3 linked regions of the Homo sapiens genome follow. The protein of the gene in region 1 interacts with the protein of each later gene in a pairwise test. Each region holds a gene or a part of one and is shown in the gene's direction. Other genes may lie near its edges.

Region 1 (7,474 bases):
TGTTTAGGCTACGAAATACACGGGTAGAATTTACAGAGAGGCAGAGTACTTTAAAATAATTAAATCACCAAATAAAATAAGACAAGTCTGTTACAAGAAATGTTCCCAAAGTGGCCAGATAAGCATCTGTCAGGGGTGCTGTAGGAAGGTCTCCCACTCTGATGAGAAGGTTAGATTAGAGGATCTCTTAAAGCCTAGGAGTCATTGATAGCCTAGTTATGCCCTGAATGCTTGAAGTTATATTTATGCTTATGGAGTAATCTCTAGAAAAATCTGATTTTATTATACTACAAAGCCATAAGTAATTTTTTTGCAACTTGTAGAGTTCTCAGACTAAAGTCAAATGAAACCAAATCATACAAACCAAACTTAACTAGTGACGATTTTTGGTATGTCAATTCACAATGTTAAACAGTAAAGTAACAGAAATCCAGAAATGTAATATTATTTACCCATAGGAAAGTGATCTCAAAAAGCCAAGAGAAAATGCCTCCTAAGGGTCCTTGCTGCAATTTGATCTCAAGAAAGCAGAGAAGAAAATTCTAAAAAGATTATTTCATTTAAGGTTAAATGATTATGGAAATATAAAATTCTCAGTGTTGGTCAAACACAAAACTTGCAGGTGGCTTAGAAAGTGCATACAATTCTCAAAATGTATTCCCTACCGTTAAAGGTATTTATATTTATAGTTATATTTTTCTAGCTATATTAAGCATTATTTTTAAAACACATTACAGTAAAATACACATAAAAGGTACATATATATTACGTATATAATTTGAGTTTTTACAAACTAAACACACCTATGTAATCAGCACCCAGATTTTAAATTGTTTTTGAAGTTAATTTTTCTTACCTTTCAGGAAGAAAAATTTAACGTTCTATTCTGCATATTTGGAGGTACACTATGTAACTTTAAAAGCAACATACCCATCTTGACTTCAAGTGACTTTCTTTTTTTTTTTTTTTTGAGATTGAGTCTCGCTCTGTTGCCCAGGCTGGAGTGCAGTGGCGCGATCTCCGCTCACTGCAAGCTCCGCCTCCCGGGTTCACGCCATTCTCCTGCCTCAGCCTCCCGCGTAGCTGGGACTACAGGCGCCTGCCACCACACTCGGCTAATTTTTTTTGTATTTTTAGTAGAGACGGGTTTTCACAAGTGTTCGCCAGGATGGTCTTGATCTCCTGACCTCGTGATCCACCCGCCTCGGCCTCCCAAAGTGCTGGGATTACAAGCTTGAGCCACCACGCCTGACCTGACTTCAAGTGACTTTCAATACCTCTTGTGGTAGGCAGAATAAATAGCTCCCCAAAGATATCCACATCTTTTTTTTTTTTTTTTTGAGACGGAGTCTCACTCTGTCGCCCAGGCTGGAGTGCAGTGGCACGATCTCGGCTCACTGCAACCTCTGCCTCCTGGGTTCCATTTATTCTCCTGCCTCGGCCTCCCAAGTAGCCGGGACTACAGGCGTGCGCCACCATCCCCGGCTAATTTTGCTTTAGTAGAGACGGGGTGTCACCATGTTGGCCAGGCTGGTCTCGATCTCCTGACGTCGTGATCCGCCCACCTCAGCCTCCCAAAGTGCTGGGATTACAGGAGTGAGCCACCGTGCCTGGCCTAGATATCCACATCTTAATCCCTGAACCTGTGACCATGTTTCCTTACTTGGCAAGAGGGACTTTGCAGATGTGACCAGGACTTTGAGAGGGAAAATTATCTTGGACTATTGAGTGGACCCAATGTAATCACCGGGGTCTTTTTAAGTGAGAGAGGAAGGCAGTAGAGTCACAAAAGATGTGGCAAGGGAGGCAGAAGTCAGAGGTGCCATGTGCCAAGGAATGTGGGCAGCCTCTAGAATCTGGAAGGGGGAAGAAAATGAATTCTCCCTGGCAGCCTCCAGTAGGAAGGCAACCCAACTGACACCTTGATTTTGGTCCCTTGAAACCCATTTTGGATCCTTAACGTCCAAAACTGTAGGATAATACATTTGTGGGTTTTTTTTTTTTTTTTTTTTTTTTTTTTTTTTGAGATAGAGTCTCGCTCTGTTGCCCAGGCTGGAGTGCAGTGGTGCGATCTCGGCTCACTGCAAGCTCCGCCTCCCAGGTTCACGCCATTCTCCTGCCTCAGCCTCCCGAGTAGCTGGGACTACAGGCGCCCGCCACCACGCCCGGCTAATGTTTTGTATTTTTAGTAGAGATGGGGTTTCACCATGTTAGCCAGGATGGTCTCGATCTCCTCACCTTGTGATCCGCCCGCCTCGGCCTCCCAAAGTGCTAGGATTACAGGCGTGAGCCACCGCGCCTGGCCAATTTGTGTTGTTTTAAAGACCCTAATTTTGTGGTAATTTGTTACAGCATATGTGAAACTAATACACCATTTATAGTCTGGTGAGTCTGTCTTCAGATTCATATATCTCACTGCACATTTAATAGCTTCATGTGGCTCACAGGCATCTCAATCATAACATGCCCTAAATTAAAACTTTACTTTTTTCTTCCCAAACCAGGTCACTCTCCCAGCCTTTCTCATCTTAGCACACAACCAACCACCCAATTCCTAATGGCAGAAACCTGGAAGTCATTTCTTTCTTTCTTTCTTTTTTTTTTTTTTTTTAAGAGATGAGGTCTCGATCCAGCACCCAGGCTGGAGTGCAGTGGTTTGATCGAGCTCACTGTTGCCTGGAACTCCTGAGCACAAGCGATCCTCCCACCTCTGCCTTCCAAAGTGCTGGGACTGCAGGTGTGAGCCACCACACCTGGCCCGGAGGTCATTCTTGAGTCTTTTTCCCTGTCATCCCCTTATATCTAACCTATAATTAAGTCTCATCAATTTTACTTCCAAAATAAACATCATATCCATCCACTTCAGTTGAGTTTCACTGCTACCAATCCATTCTCCACAGAGCAGCCAGTGTGATTTAAAAAAGAAATCTGGGCCTGGTGTGGTGGCTCATGTCTGTAATCCTAGCACTTTGGGAGGCCAAAGTGGGCGGATCACCTAAGGTCGGGAGTTTGAGACCAGTCTGGCCAACATGGTGAAACCCCCGTCTCTACTAAAAATACAAAAATTAGCCGGGCATGGTGGTGTGTGCCTGTAATCCCAGCTACTCGGGAGGCTAAGGCAGGAGAATTGCTTGAACCTGGGAGGTGGAGGTTTCAGTGAGCTGAGATCGTACCACTGTACTCCAGCCTGGGCGATAGAGTGGGACCCTGTCTCAAAAACAAACAAACAAACAAAAAAGAAATCTGATAGCACTTCCTTGCAAAAATCCCTTAATGTCTTTTCTTTTGTGGCTAATGTGACCTTTTCGTGGCTCCAAGCTAGCCACAGGAGAACTAAGAGTTCATAAGTATTTTACAAATTAGAGCTTCATTATTAATTGAAATGCATCACAAACTGCAGTTTGATGAGATTTGAAATTTGCTGTACAGCAAGAAATCTCAATGAACTGTTAGACTTAGTTTCACCTGTGGTAAATTTTTAATGGTTGTAAAAAAAAAAAGATGTTAATATTTTGTATCATCAACTTCATTCAAAGTTTCTTGTCAATGGTGACTCAGGAATCTGTTGCCCAGGTTGGTCTCGAACTCCTGGCCTCAAGCTAGCCTTCTCACTTGGCTTCCTAAAATGCTGGGAGTGACTCAGAAATTTGAAAGGGTCATTAAAAAGTCTTAAAGCCTGATTCGGTGGCATGGTCCTGTAGTCCCAGCTACTCAGAAGGCTGAAGCCAGAAAAGATGGCTTGAGGCCAGGAGCTCGAGTGCTGCCTGGACAACATAGTGAGACCCTTGTCTCAAAAACAACAGCAACCCAAAGTCTTATTTATCTTCAGGAGCTGCGCAAGCCCTTTACCACCGCCACGTTTCTCCCTGGATGTCCCTAGGCCTCGGGACTGGCTGGGAGTTCCCTGTAGTGGAGGCCGCCGCTGAACTGATTATAAAGATGAGAGAGGCTCTGCCATGCCTTGGTCATCAATTCACACTCCACCAGTGTCTTCTAGCAGTCACGGCAAGGGTTAACGTCAGGGACCGCTGTGGGGTGGCCGCGCTACACGACAGTATAGTTGCGGTCCTGGTTTATGAAATAACTGAGGGAACAAGAGGCGCAAGAAATCCCTCCTTGGGTGCAAGACCAAAACAACTACCCAGCGGGAAGACTCGGGCTTCAGTGCGTGTGTCGCCAGTGGAGGAGGACGCTTCGGGGCGGGAGCACAAGCTGGCAGGACAGCCCCGCAGCAGCTCCAGCGCGGCAGAGGCCATGGAAGATGGTCCGCTGGTCAGCACCCTGCCTGCGCCTCAAAATACCGCCGGGAAGGTGGGGGACGGGGACGGGAGCAGCCAATCACGCGAGCTCTCTCGGGTGGCGTCAGGGCGCGATCGCGGATTCGGCACTCCGGGTGGGCGTGGCTGGGCGAGCGAGGAGTGGGGACAAGGTCGAGCGACGAGTCGTCTACCCGCGCGCCCGAGCGCGGAAACCGAGGGGCAGGCTCGCGCTCTGCCTGCTTCGTGGCGCTTGGTTCGTCCCTCGCCCGAGGAGCGCGGTGGCGGCGTGGGAGGGAGCCTCTGACGGCGTCTGGTGAGAGCCGCGCGGCGGCGTGGGACTCCGGGAGAGCATCCTGCCCACCCCCAGGGCCGCCTCCCCCGGCCTCCTGCCCCAGGCCTCCCCTCCCCGGCCGCTTTCCACCCCACCGCGCCCCGAGGCCCACACTGGACCCGGCTCTCGCCCAATGTCCTGCAGGCCTCACCATAGGGCACCTCTTTGGCCCAATTCAGGGCTCCGCCGTGTGGCTCGGGGTGGGCCCTGATGAGCAGGGGAGGGGATGTAGAGGGAGGCCCAGGTTGACTTGTCCCCTGGAACAGTGCTGTCCAATCAGGGGGGATGCTGACTGTCCCGTTAGGAGCGGGGCGGGGCGAGAGAGGGTGGAGAACTGCCTGGCAGGCGAGCTGTCCTGGCGTGAAAAGGCTGGGCTAAAAGGTCCCCTCCCTGCTCTGAGTCTACATTCTGAGTCTGGGCTTCCTTGTATATTTGAGAAACGTTAATTCCCCGCCCTCACCCCAATTTTTTTTTTTTTTTTTTTTTTTTTTTTTTTTTTTGAGACTGAGTCTCGCTCTGTCGCCCAGGCTGGAGTGCAGTGGCGCGATCTCGGCTCACTGCAAGCTCCGCCTCCCAGGTTCACGCCATTCTCCTGCCTCAGCCTCCCGAGTAGCTGGGACTACAGGCGCCCACCACCACGCCCGGCTAATTTTTTGTATTTTTAGTAGAGACGGGGTTTCACCATGTTAGCCAGGATGGTCTCGATCTCCTGACCTCGTGATCCGCCCACCTCGGCCTCCCAAAGTGCTGGGATTACAGGCGTGAGCCACCGCGCCCGGCCCCTCCCCCCAGTTTTACGCTTGTAAAATTGTTAGAACACAAGAACGTATTTTTTACTACTCTGGTAGGAGGGGTGGGGTACAGTTTCGCAGTATAGGTAACTCGTTAACCCAACTGTAGGAGCGCCGCAGTTGAAGCCAAACCGAATTATAGCGTCGGAATGGGGCCCTGACTTTCAGACAGCTTTATATAGCTCTTTCCTTCTTATTCCTTTGAGTCCCATCCTCATTGCACTGATGAAAGGGCGATTTATCATGTTTTCGAGGAAGATTTGTACTCATGGATGTTTATGGAATGAACAGACACAAGGCAAACACTGGGTGTGGGACAGTGTTCTGAGCGCTGAAGTCATTCAGACAAGGGTTTGATTTTCGGTTCTCTCAATGATGAACTTGGGTTCAAGTAATTCTCCTGCCTCAGCCTCCCAAGTAGCTGGGATTACAGGCGCCTGCCACCATGCTCGGTTAATTTTTGTATTTTTAGTAGAGACGGGGTTTCACCATGTTGGTCAGGCTGGACTTGAACAGACATCAAGTGATCCGCCCATCTCGGCTTCCCAAAGTGCTGGGGTTACAGGCGTCAGCCACCGCGCCTGGCCAATGATGAACTATTAAACAGTGATTTGGGGCAAGTAAATTATTTTCTCTGTGCTTCCTGTCTGTAAAACGCGGCTAATACGAGGGCTGTGAGGATGAAATGAGTTAATACATGTGAAGAAACCTATTAGCACAATGTTTGGCACTTCAGAAGCGCTCAGCAAATGTTTACTGTTGTTTCCTCTGTTCAGTGACTGCTTGACCCAAGTGTTCATTATTTTTATTTGATAGCCTTAAAAATATTCTCTTCACAAAGAACTCTTTCCACGGTTGAGTGGGGCATTATTTTTCTGGAAAGGGTTAATCACCTTTTGTCAGCATTTATAATGGACGGTCTTGAGTTGAGAGAATGCAGAAAGTAGTCTTTAAGAATTTGGGTTTCTGCCGGGCGTGGTGGCTCACGCTTGTAATCCCAGCACTTTGGGAGGCCAATGCAGGCGGATCACCTGAGGTCAGGAGTTCAAGACCAGCCTGGCCAACATGATGAAACCTCATCTCTACTAAAAATACAAAAATTAGCTCGATGTGGTGGCAGGCGCCTGTGATCCCAGCTACTCAGGAGGCTGAGATAGGAGTATCGCTTGAACCCAGGAAGCGGAGGTTGCAGTGAGCCGAGATTGCACCACTGCACTCCAGCCTGGGCGACAGGCTGTCTGTCTCAAAAAAAAAAAAAAAAAAAAAAAAAAAGAATTGGGTTTCTCTGGCTGGGTATGGTGGCTCATGCCTGTAATCCAAGCACTTTGGGAGGCCAGGCGGCGGATCACCTGAGGTCAGGAGATCGAGACCAGCCTGGCCAACATGGTGAAACCCCACCTCTACTAAAAATACAAAAAAATTAGCTGGGCATGGTGTCACATGCCTGTAATCCCAGCTACTTGGGAGGCTGAGGCAGGAGAATCGCTTCAACCTGGGAGGTGGAGGTTGCAGTGAGCTGAGATCATGTCACTGCACTCCAGCCTGGGCAACAGAGTGAGACCCTGTCTCAAAAACAAAAACAAACAAGAATTGGGTTTTTCAGCGATTGCCAGTGAGTTCAAGATGAAGGCAAACTTGTCCGAAAACTATCATCTATCTGTCTAACATCTATCATCCATCCATCTGTCACCTATTATTTGTTTTTCTGTCTTTCTTTTGGTGGCTCAGGTACAATTATAGAATTGAAGAGTGAAATGGATGCAAGTATTCAGTCCCACCTTCTGACTTTCTGAGCTCTGTGCTGGACAATGCACCTACTTCATAATGTTCATTTAAAAGATTGCTTGTTTTTATTTTTTTATTTAAATTTTAATTTTTTAAAGATAGGGTCTCACTCTGTCACCCAGGCTGGAGTGCAGTGGTCCTTTTCCAATTCGTACTATAGTTTCTTTCAGGGAAAAGAATTATATAGCTGGGGAACACATATGAGAAGACTTTTTGCTATTTAGCCTCTTGTGGCTTTTAATTTACATTTTTAATTTTTGTGAGGCAAGGCCAAGGCAGATGACTTGAGGTCAAGAGTTCGAGAACAG
Region 2 (4,630 bases), on another chromosome or scaffold:
CTCCCCAACCACACACATTCACACACTCAGCTTCCAGATCCTGCTCTCCCAACCTCCACCAAAACAGGGGAGTGAATTAGCCAGGCGTGGTGGTGGGCACCTGTAGTCCCAGCTACTCGGGAGGCTGAGAGGGGAGAATGGCATGAACCTGGGAGGCGGAGCTTGCAGTGAGCCGAGACCGCGCCACTGTGCTCCAACCTGGGCGACAGAGCGAGACTCCATCTCAAAAACAAAAACAAAAAAAAACAGGGGAGTAGGCACTTCATTTCTCCAGTGCATCCCAGTAGTACCCAGGCCAGCAGCCTGGTTCCTGCAGAGCCCCACCCATTTCACTTGGGGGCAGGAGACAAGCAGGGGGAGGTCTAGGAAAGAGACTCCTTTGCATATATGCTCATGGCCAAGATCAAGAGCTGTTCAGACAAGGTCCTGTTCTCCCTGCTCACCTCAGGTATGAAGAAGAAGTAGCACTTCGAGCCACAGCAGAGAACGAGTTTGTGGCTCTAAAGAAGGTGAGTGAAGCCCAGCTGGCCCTGAGCCCGCCCTGAGTCCCGCCACCCATCCTCTTTGTCCTGCCACATGGCAGCCAGGTCCTCAGAGCCCTCTGAGGAAAGCCGGCCTCACAGCCCCTTCTACCCCACCCAGGATGTGGACTGCGCCTACCTCCGCAAGTCAGACCTGGAGGCCAACGTGGAGGCCCTGATCCAGGAGATTGACTTCCTGAGGCGGCTGTACGAGGAGGTGAGGGGCTCTCAACCATGGTGGGCACAGATCCCCCCATGGGATCCCTGACCCTCTGCCCAGACACCCACAGGCATGAACCAGGCCTGCTGACATATGAACCCAGGCTCACGGCTGGAGGGTTGGCAGGGAGCAAGGAGAGGGAAGGAACAGGGAGGCAAACGGATGGAAAGCCAAAAAGGAACAAATTTAGTAAGGGGCAGGAGAGTGAGCACCCCAGACACCTGTGCCTTGGGAACCTGCCCTGCATCCTTCCCCTGAGCCAGTGGACTGCAGCATAGACCCCACACAGCATCAAACAGAATTGAACCCATTGCTCTGGCCCAGGGCTTTCTCTGGCAGCAATAGCCTTCCTACATGGGGTTGGTCTAGGAGAATGGAAAGAGGCCCCCCATACAGGGTCTGAGCCCCTGGAAAGCATCTGGACCATGCTGGCTGCACATGGGCCTGAATAATTCCAAAAGCAAGCAGTTGAGAAGTGGTTGTGTTTTCCTCTAAAGGGATTTCCTATTTGTGCAGAAAGTTATGTGATTTCATCAGGTTTGTTTCTCTAAACATGAGAAGTTCACTCCCGATGAGCCAAAAGGATGATAGGCATCCAGGGATTAGGAGAAGCCCAGATAAGTGAGTTGTCCTTCCTTTCCCCACCTCCTGCAGGAGATCCGCATTCTCCAATCCCACATCTCAGACACCTCCGTGGTTGTCAAGCTGGACAACAGCCGGGACCTGAACATGGACTGCATCGTTGCCGAGATCAAGGCACAGTATGATGACATTGCCACCCGTAGCCGGGCTGAGGCCGAGTCCTGGTATCGCAGCAAGGTGAGCGGCACAGGACACCTGCCTGCTAGACATGGCAGTGGGAGGGATGTGAGGTATCTAGTAGAAAAGGCTTCTTTGTCTAGGGATTCTGATCCCTAAGGATGGTAAGAGAAAAACCAATAGCTCTCATGTTGGGGTGGCAGGGCAGGACTGCCACGTGTGGTTGCACAGGCCGAGCACTGCACAATCTGTGCAATCATCTGAGCTGTCCTGAATGAATGGGATGTCTCATCCTGAGCCTCATGAACATCTCTGCTTCCTGCAGTGTGAGGAGATGAAGGCCACAGTGATCAGGCACGGGGAGACCCTGCGCCGCACCAAGGAGGAGATCAACGAGCTGAACCGCATGATCCAGAGGCTGACAGCCGAGGTGGAGAATGCCAAGTGCCAGGTACCAGAGCCCGGCCCACCCCTCAGTGTAGGAAGAGACTGGGGTTAGCCCTCGGCAGAGGGATTTGAGTTAGATTCTGGAAAAGTCTTCCCAGTGCAGTCTCATGGGTGACAGAGTAAGATGAGAAATCTACTGAAATATTTCTGATTGTCTTGGCCAAGGTGTGTGTGTGTATCTGTGTGGTGTGTGTGTGTGTGTGTGTGTGTAGTGTAAGTGAGGAGGGAAGGAAGGTTAGGAAGCTGATTGGAGAGATAATATTTTAAGATAGAAGTTGAATGATCCTATTGGAGACTGGCTGGGATTTCAAGAAACTAAACTTCACTTTATCCTCTCCATATTCCCCCTACCTCCCAGAACTCCAAGCTGGAAGCTGCGGTGGCCCAGTCTGAGCAGCAGGGTGAGGCGGCCCTCAGTGATGCCCGCTGCAAGCTGGCCGAGCTGGAGGGCGCCCTGCAGAAGGCCAAGCAAGACATGGCCTGCCTGATCAGGGAGTACCAGGAGGTGATGAACTCCAAGCTAGGCCTGGATATCGAGATCGCCACCTACAGGCGCCTGCTGGAGGGCGAGGAGCAGAGGTGGGTCCAACCCAGCCCTAAGCACTCCACTTGCATAGACCTGCCCACCTTTGATTTTTCCCTATCTCAGTCTCAGTCCCCAGGTGACATTCTTGCCTCTATGGATCCCAGATCCATATCTTCAAGTTGTCTCATTCTCAACTCTTCCAAGATCCATACCCTGCCTGGTTTCTTGGACATCACCTATTCTAGGGCAGGGTTGCTGGCCAAACTCCACCCCTGACCTCGTCTTCCCAAGAGGGCCTTCTCCTTCTGAAAGTTGAGCCTATCTAGACCTGACAGATATGGTTGTTCAGGTTGTTCACTGCACAAAGGCAAATAACAGCTGAGAGACAAATAAGAATTGAAATCCAACCATACTCTACTTGCTAAATAGTGTGACCTGACGTTGCTTCAACTGCCAGAAAGGCAACTTTTTCTAAGCTGCACAAGGGAATAAATGTAGGTCAGAAATAGCCCTGAGATGACCCATTTCAGCACCTAGCGGAAATTCGATGACCTCATTCTGACTTCTTTTATCTTCCCCTTCCTTACTTTTTCCCCACTCAGGCTGTGTGAAGGTGTTGAAGCTGTGAATGTCTGTAAGTATCTTGAGCCCTGAAAAGGAAAATGTAGACTGGGGACAAAGGACTTCTTGACTATGAATATATGCAGAGACTTTGGGAGGAGTGTTTCCAATAATTCCCCCAGTAAAGAGGATAGGTTGGTCATGCAGCAAGACAGACTGAGGTTAGCTCGCAGGAAGAACCTCACAGCCTGAATGTGTTGGGGAGGGGAAAAAATAATAAGATGTCATTGCAAGAAGGGACCTCAGATGTCATTCATAACCTTCACCTTATATAGGTGAGAAAGCTGAGGCCCAGACAGAGGAAAGGACTCCCAAAGTCACAAAGCAGAACCAGGACCAGAACCCCGGTCTGCTGGCTCCCAGGCTAGGGTTCCCTCCTTCAGAATAGAACTGGAGGCTCTTTGCATCCTTCCCTGGATGGTCGACACATCAGACAGACCAAAGGAAGGTGGCTGGATGGGATGGCCATCAGCAGGGGTCTCTTGACCCTGCCCTTGTTCCCACAGGTGTCAGCAGCTCCCGGGGTGGGGTTGTGTGCGGGGATCTCTGCGTGTCGGGCTCCCGGCCGGTGACGGGCAGCGTCTGCAGTGCCCCCTGCAACGGGAACCTGGTGGTGAGCACTGGTTTGTGCAAGCCCTGTGGCCAGCTGAACACCACCTGTGGAGGGGGCTCCTGCGGCCAGGGGAGGCATTAAGTGGCCCAAAAGAGAGCCAGGGGAGCCCCTTCTGCCTGCCAGACGTGCCACTGCCCCACCACCAGCTGAAAACAGCAGCACATCGCTGGCTTTTCCCCTTGTGTTCTGAGAATACACCATCGGCTCATTCCCACCAGCGGCTCCTCCCCACCTTTCATCCCACTGGAAAGGGGCCTGTGGCTGGGGAATAGACCCATTCCTTCCCCTGTCTCAGCCTTCAGCCCCTCCCGGGGAGAAGGGCCTTGCTTCCCTGGAAGAAGCACTGTGAGACTGTTCCCCCTGCCTCTCTGGCCTCTTGTCTCCCCTTTTCCAATAAACTTGGGGACCTGCTTTGTGTGCTGCAATGTCTTGCTTTCTTGGGGTTCCCCACACCCACCAAGTGGTGAGCACCCCAGCCTGATGATATGGCCTGAAGACTAGAGTCGTTCTGGCCTGTTCTCCGCCTGGACACCCGTAGGGCCTTGTCCCCAGATGGTTCTGTCATCTCCTGGCCAGGCAGTGCTGACTGTGCTCACAGCACCTTCTACCTGTCACACCTGTCAGTCTGGATGGCTCTGAAGGGGACCGAGGAGGCCAGAAGTCAGCCGGAAGGCAGTGCATGTGCATGCGCATGTTTATATGTGTGCACGTGTATGCGTGCTTGTGTGTGTGTTTGAGTTTTGCCCCCTTCTTGCATACACGGTCCCCACTTTCTCTTCCTAGCATATCTTCACTCTGCCCCCCAGCCATCCTTCCACGTAGGTACCACAGCAACAACCACCAAAAGTGCCAGCAGCCACCCTTGGGGGCTGCCCTGTGTCAGTCTGGACCCCACCCCATTGCCACATCCTCCTCATGCTGCC
Region 3 (6,950 bases), on another chromosome or scaffold:
AAACTAGGCATCTGACAAAGTTCTAATATCTAGAATCTATAAGGCACTTAAATTAACAAGCAAAAACCAAACAACCTCATTAAAAAGTGGGCAAAGGATATGAACAGACACTTTTCAAAAGAAGACATACATGTGGTCAACAAGCATATGAAAAAATGCTCAACATCACTAATCAATGAAAACCACAATGAAATACCATCTTACACCAGTCAGGATGGCTATTACTAAAAAGTCAAAAATAACAGATGTTGGCGATGGTGCAAAGAAAAGGGAACACTTATACACTGTTGGTGGGAATGTCAGTTAGTTCAGCCACTGTGGGAAGCAGTTTGACAATTCCTCAAAGAACTTAAGACAGAACTACCATTTGACCCAGCCATCCATTATTGGGTATATACCCAAAGAAATATAAATCGTTCTGCCATAAAGACACATGCATGCATATGTTCCTTACAACACTATTCACAACAGCAATGACATGGAGTCAACCTAAATGCCCATCAGTGGTATATGGAATAAAGAAAATTTGGTACATATACACCATGGAATACTATGCAGCCACAAAAAGAATGAGATCATGTCCTTGGCAACAACATGGATGGAGTTGGAGGCCATTATTCTAAGCAAAGTAACACAGGAACAGAAAACCAAACACCACATGTTCTCATTTATAAATGGGAGCTAATATTGAGTACACATGGACACAAAGAAGGGGACAATAGACACGGGGGCCTACTTGAGGATGGAGATTGGGAGGAGGGTGAGGATCAAAAAACTATCTATTGGGTACTATGCTTATTGCCTGTGTGATGAAATAATATGTACGCCACACCCCTGTGACACACAATTTATCTATAGAACCAACCTGCCCCTATACCTCTGAAACTAAAATAAAAGTAAAATAAATAAAAACCTTTGCCCTTCAACATACAGTAGTAAGAAAATGAAAAGACAAACCACAGACTTGGAGAAAATATTTTCAAACTACATATCTGATAAAGGACTTGTATATAAGCAACTCTTACATCTCAATAGTAAGGAAGCAAACAACCTAATCAGAAATGGGCAAAATATGTGAGGAGACATTTCTCCAAAGAACATATACAAATATCTAACAAGCAAATAAAAAGATGCTCAATTAGCCATTAAGGAAATGCAAATCTAAATCACAATGAGATACTTCTCCACACCCTCAAGAATAGCTACACATTTGAAAAAAACAAAACAAAACGGGGAAATAACAAATATGGTGATGATGTGAAGAAATACATTGCTGGTGGTTCATATAAATCTAGTAACTGTAAAATAGTACAGCCCCTTGGGAAAACAGTTTGGCAGAAAATTAAACATACAGTTATAATATGACCAAGTAATTCCACTCATAGGTGTTTAACCAAGAGAATTGAAAACGAATGTCCACCCAAAAACTTGCACACAAACGTTCATAGCAGCTTTATTCATAATAGCCAAAAGATAGAAACAATCCAAGTGTTCATCAACTGATGACTAGATAGACAAAATGTAGTATACTGATGCAATGGAATATTACTCAGCTATAAAAAGGAATGAAGTATTTATATATGCCACAACATTAATAAACTTTGGAGACATTATTTAGATGAAATTTTCAGGATAGGCAAATCCATAGGCACAGAAAGTAGATTAGTGGTTGTCTGATGCTGGGAGTAGTAATGAAGACTGACTGCAGATGGGCAAGGAAGATGTCACTGACGTGATGCAAATGTTTTAAAATTAGATTGTAGTGATGGTTGCACCACCCAATAAATTTATAAAATCACTTTAAATATGCAAATTTTATGGCATGTAAATTATCCTAAATACAATATTTAAACACTGTGAGCATCAAGAAAAAAAGAGAACTTTCATCTCCTTACTTTGACAATTTATTAGGGATCATACAGAGGTCATTAGGCTGTTTGTTGTTGTTGCTGTGGTGGTGGTGGGTTGTGGTTTTCCCATGAGAGTCGAGGGTCATGCAACCATTTGGTCTTTTAAAATAAAAATTTTTAAATCAATTAAAAAAGAATATTGCTGGCTTGAAATTTGGAGTAGTCATGGGACAAAGAGAAGTGGATGGATTTTTTAAAATATTCAGGATGTAGAAGTGACAAGATTTTGTAGCAGTTAGATATAGGGAGTGGGGAAAGGTGAGGAGGCCTCAGACTGAGTATGCTTAAAGTTGAATTCCTGTTGTCCTCCCGAACTGGCTGTCCTGTGCTGCCAATCTCAGTGAATGGATCAGCATCCTGGCACAGAGTTGACATTCATTGATTGCCTTTGGAGTGAATGAACAGAGTATGATGAATAGAGTGAAAATATAGCTAAACAAGGCAGACACCAGGTCCTGCCAAATAGCCAATGCAAAACTCACCCTTCAGGTTGGCTCAGCAGATATCCAGCATAATTTTTTTCTCACCTTTCAAACCATTTGGGAAATCATGAGGTATTTTCCTCATCCAGAAGAACACTCACCTACATATCAGCCACTCCTTCCCTAGAACCTACAGGTATGGAGCAGGCTGGGTTTTTTCAAGAGCCTCTTATCCTGTAAATCTTTACACAGGGCAATGGCAGGTGCATGTACAGCCCATATGAGCCCAGGGGATGCTTGGTATTATAGAAAGGGGATCACAGTGGTGCCCAACTGATGGATCCGTGTTCAGTTTGCAGGAAGAGACTCTTCCCACCAAAGAGGTTTGTTAATCCTGGGGTCCCCCTCCCAGCCCCTGGAGGCATCAGATACAGCTGTCAGAAACATTGTAAACACCCAGTGATCCACTTGGCTGGTTTTACTGTTGTTCCCAGGGTTGACAAGCAGAAATACAGAACAAATGGTGGTTCCTGAAACAGAGGCCAAAACAAGGAAGTGATCTGTTCCAGTCCAAGCTTCCAAGAAATAAAGAACTAGGTGGGGCACACTAAACAAGCCCCCAGACTCAACCACCCCAGTAAACATTCCCTTCATCACACTGGTTATGAGATAAAGTATAAGTTTTTTAAGCCTTATTATAAATAACCTTACTTAACGTCTTCTGGTTGTTGTGAAAATTATAGTATTTTGCAAAATATATGTTCACCATTATCATTACCACCAGTTCCTTAATGAGGAGAAACCAGAAGTTGACACCAAAATGTTGATCCATAATGTTTATAGTCCTTCTTTGTCTTTATAGTTAATGTAAAATAAACTGTATGTAATTTTTACTACAGTGTGTCCTGAAAGGGCAAACCAAGCTACAAGCAACTCTAAAAGACTACTACTGTATGGGAGTGGATTATGAAAGTGTTTCTTAAATATGAGAGCTCAAGTTTTTCTTTCAGCGACTGAGTTAAAGCACGCAACTCATTTATCATGAGACTTTTGCTAGGCAGTGTACTATGTCCACTCAACACACATCATTTTAGGCAATCATCTGGTTAAAACGTTTAATAGTATGGCATTCACAAACCCATTCTTCAGAGTTGACATTCAATTAATGGTTTGAATGTCGTTTCCAGGGCAGTCAGGAGTATTTAAAGGCTTTTCCATTGTTTTCGGAAGAGAAAGAAAACTTCCTAGCCTAACTTACTTACCCAGAGCCTTGCTCCAGAGGGGGCAGACAAAGGGTAAAATCTGGGCAGAGAACATTAGTGGATATGAGAACGAAAGAAAGTGCTGCAAGATCTTGCAGACAGCTGAGTTCCACCTTCCACTCTACTGCCGAACAAAGTGAGGCAGGAAGAGGGTAGGGACTCGCTGAAAGCTAAACACCAAGTCAGTGACAGATCCAGGGCTGTAAAGTCCGACCGAGATTGAAACAATGTACACTGGGCGTCAGTCCCAACGCGAGCTTGCTCCAGCTCTTCCAGCTCTTCCTGAGCGCTAGGCCCATCCGGCCTCACGCTGATCTCCGGGCAGACTCTGTCGCGCAACTGGCACAGATCGTGACGACAACCCTGCGGCAAGGCAGGAGTGGCCTTCCTCTCCGCCAGGGTTAAGGTGAGTACCACCGCCCTTGGGCCCAGCAGCCCGGGTGAGAGCCTCCGCCGCCCACTGCGACAGGCCTGAAAGCGAGCGCCTGGGTAAACCCACCCGTAGCACCCATGGGGACACCCCTTCCCTGACCCACGGGACGGAACCCACCTGTGCTGGAGGTCGTGACTGCTAACTCCGCAGAGTGGGCAGAATTCCAAGCAAGGAGAGTCTCGGGAGGCAGCCTTTCACCCGCCTTTTGCCTTTTCACCCCCAAAACTGTCGGCCCCACGCTCCCCTCCCCCAGCCCGCTCGGGCCCAGCGGAGAGCCTGTAGGCCCCGCCCCACTCCTTCCGGCCGTGCAGGGTGGGTGCCTCTGGCGCCCGGGACTTCGCCCGGTGCTAGGGCGTCAGTCTCCCATTCGGAAGGACTGGGCCGGGGCACTCTATTCAATCGCCTTTAGTGAACATACTTGAAGCTATAGGTGCAGGGATGAGAAAAAACAGGCCCATAAAGCTATAAAACCTGGGTCCCCTGCCTGCCATTTCAGTGCTCCTCCCGAGTCCTCCCACTACGCTTCTATTTATGGTAGTTTATCCAGGTTTACTAGAAGTAAAATTCTACTACCTTTCCACCATTTTCTTGAGTTTATGGAAGTCATATACCGCTCATTACTCCCATCGATTCAGCTGAGCATCTTGAACCCAGGGTCCAGATACAGTGCTACATACAGTGAGCACTAGAAGGGAATACCCATTAGGAATGAACACCTTATGCAGGTAAAAATTTAAGAACGATACATATTACAAAGAAGGACCAAAAAGTATACTGAAATAGTATATGCAATGGAAATCCAAGGCAGATTTAAAAAATGAGAGTAAGAACAACAAAAAAAATCAAATGCATATATACTGAAAATGGGAAATTGTGCAGTATTATATTTATTCGAGATTAAAAGTGTTAATCTAATGTCAAAAAAGCAATAAAGGAATTGGTTTGTAGAAGTCAGGATCAACAAAAGAAGAAAAAGCCTCCACATCTTTGCCCTGGAATTCCTTCTGCCATGAATGCTCTTACCCGGCACTTGTTTATTTGGAAAACGGCTACTCGTTATTTTTGACTCAATTTAGATAGCACCTCCTCTGTGAAGCCTTCCCTGTCTTTCCCAGATAAGTTTGTATATTTTTTTTCCCTAGGTCCAGTATGCCCAATGGATCTCGTACAGGCCTCAAGAGTACCACTTACTCTAGATTATAATTTCTCTTTCTGCATGTCTTTGTCCTCTAATGAATAAGTAGCTTCTTGAGAGCAGAAAACTTGTGTTTTTCATATTTGTTCTCCAAGCACAGAGTCTAAAATGTCTATATATTTAATAAATATTTGTTAAAAAATTTCTAGAACCAGTGTGTAAACAAAAGGACATATCCAGAGTGTGAATGTAACATAAAGAGGAAAAACTAAGTACAATGAGAATCTAGATTTAGTCTGGCTGGTATTCATTCATGCAATAAACATTAATGAGTGCCTACTGTATGCCAGGCACTGTACTAAGATCTGGGTGTAAAATGATAAACAAAGCCCAGATATAGTCCATGCCCTTATGCCCTTATGTTTAAAGAACAAATTGGAGTTGGCCAGGCAAATGGGAAAACAAAAAAAGTTTTGGGCAGAAAGAACAGCATGATCCAATGTCCTGTAACAGGAAGATCATAACTGTAGCAATTAGAGTGAATGAGCTCACTTAAAGCTAAGCTGAAATCAACACAAAGTACTCAGAAAAGGCAACAGGTTGATAGACAATACCTGTTTGTTTGAGTCAGTAAAAGAAGCAAGTTTCCTTAATAATAGTAACCAACATTTATAAAATGTGCACTATATGCTAAACACTGGGCTAAGTGTTTGTTTTATATCAAACACTTAAGGTAGATGATATTATTTCTACTTTAAGGATAAGGCAACTGAGGCACAGATAGGTTAAGCAATTTTCACCAGGATCACATGGCAGATAAATTTCAGAGCTGAGATTCAAACCTAGGTAATTTGGCTCCAGACTCTAGGGAGCCTGGATATTTTACTTTTAATAAAATATAAATTTTACTTGTAATAAAATAAAAGTCAGATATTTTACTGTTTCCTCTCTCTGTGTGTGTGTGTGTAGCAGGTCACATGGTGTATGGCACAGAGTGGAACTTCTTAATATTTTTGGAATGAATGAATAGCTGAATAAAAGCAATAGGTACAAATGTGCTAGAAAACAAAATAGAAAAAAACAATAGTATCTGGGTCTTTTTATGTTCCCGCCACACCAGCTGTTCCTAGAACACACCAAACTTGTTCTTGTTCTGCTTCCAAAATATAATCTGCTCATGCATTTGTCCCTCACTGTACTGCTAACATTCCGGACCAGAGTTTGGCTTTTTTTTTTTATCTGTGAAGGGTCAGCTGGTAAATATTTTAGGCTTTTTGAGTCACATACAGTCTTTGTCTCCAGGTATTAAATTCTGCTTTCATAGAGTGAAAGAATTCACAGACAATACATAAATGAATGCGTGTAGGTATGTTCCAATAAAAGTTTATTTACAAAAACAGGCAAGAGGCAGGATTTGCCCTGTGGGCAATAATTTTTAGACTCTTGCTCTAGGCCAAATTATCACCATCTCTTGCATGGACTACTGTATTAAATGATGTCTGAGAGCCATCATCTTTGACTAACATCTACACCTTTGTTTTATCAGCCTCTCAGTGAAGCTTTAGTGATCTCTAATCATATTCATAACCTTGAGTTCTTGAAAGGTGGTTAAAACTATGTGTTAATTGTGATTGTGAACTTCGATTTATCAAAGATGGTCTTTAAAAGAACTACTAGTGATCTTTGAAAGAGTTAAAAAATTAAAGAAGGAAGATTTATTATAAAAGTAGTGACTTTTAGCCAGAAAATAAATATTCTGGACACAGTGCAATGTTGAATTTGGCTGAA

Evidence for each region. The genes of interacting proteins can lie anywhere in the genome.
Region 2: the proteins of GNE (region 1) and KRT83 interact in binary tests that used the Homo sapiens proteins (3 or more experiments, as listed by UniProt).
Region 3: the proteins of GNE (region 1) and SPRY3 interact in binary tests that used the Homo sapiens proteins (3 or more experiments, as listed by UniProt).

The regions. Positions count from the first base shown.
Region 1 is NC_000009.12:36,255,419-36,262,892, reverse strand, and holds the start of GNE (bifunctional UDP-N-acetylglucosamine 2-epimerase/N-acetylmannosamine kinase), read left to right. Parts: upstream 1-4,444; 5' UTR 4,445-4,572; intron 4,573-5,973; exon of another isoform or gene 5,974-5,997; intron 5,998-7,474. UniProt on the Homo sapiens protein: Bifunctional enzyme that possesses both UDP-N-acetylglucosamine 2-epimerase and N-acetylmannosamine kinase activities, and serves as the initiator of the biosynthetic pathway leading to the production of N-acetylneuraminic acid (NeuAc), a critical precursor in the synthesis of sialic acids.
Region 2 is NC_000012.12:52,313,789-52,318,418, reverse strand, and holds the end of KRT83 (keratin, type II cuticular Hb3), read left to right. Parts: intron 1-448; coding exon 449-509; intron 510-642; coding exon 643-738; intron 739-1,395; coding exon 1,396-1,560; intron 1,561-1,825; coding exon 1,826-1,951; intron 1,952-2,305; coding exon 2,306-2,526; intron 2,527-3,075; coding exon 3,076-3,107; intron 3,108-3,600; coding exon 3,601-3,788; 3' UTR 3,789-4,118; downstream 4,119-4,630.
Region 3 is NC_000023.11:155,608,648-155,615,597, forward strand, and holds the start of SPRY3 (protein sprouty homolog 3), read left to right. Parts: upstream 1-3,938; 5' UTR 3,939-4,000; intron 4,001-4,144; exon of another isoform or gene 4,145-4,305; intron 4,306-6,950. UniProt on the Homo sapiens protein: Inhibits neurite branching, arbor length and neurite complexity. Inhibits EGF-mediated p42/44 ERK signaling. Negatively regulates the MAPK cascade, resulting in a reduction of extracellular matrix protein accumulation.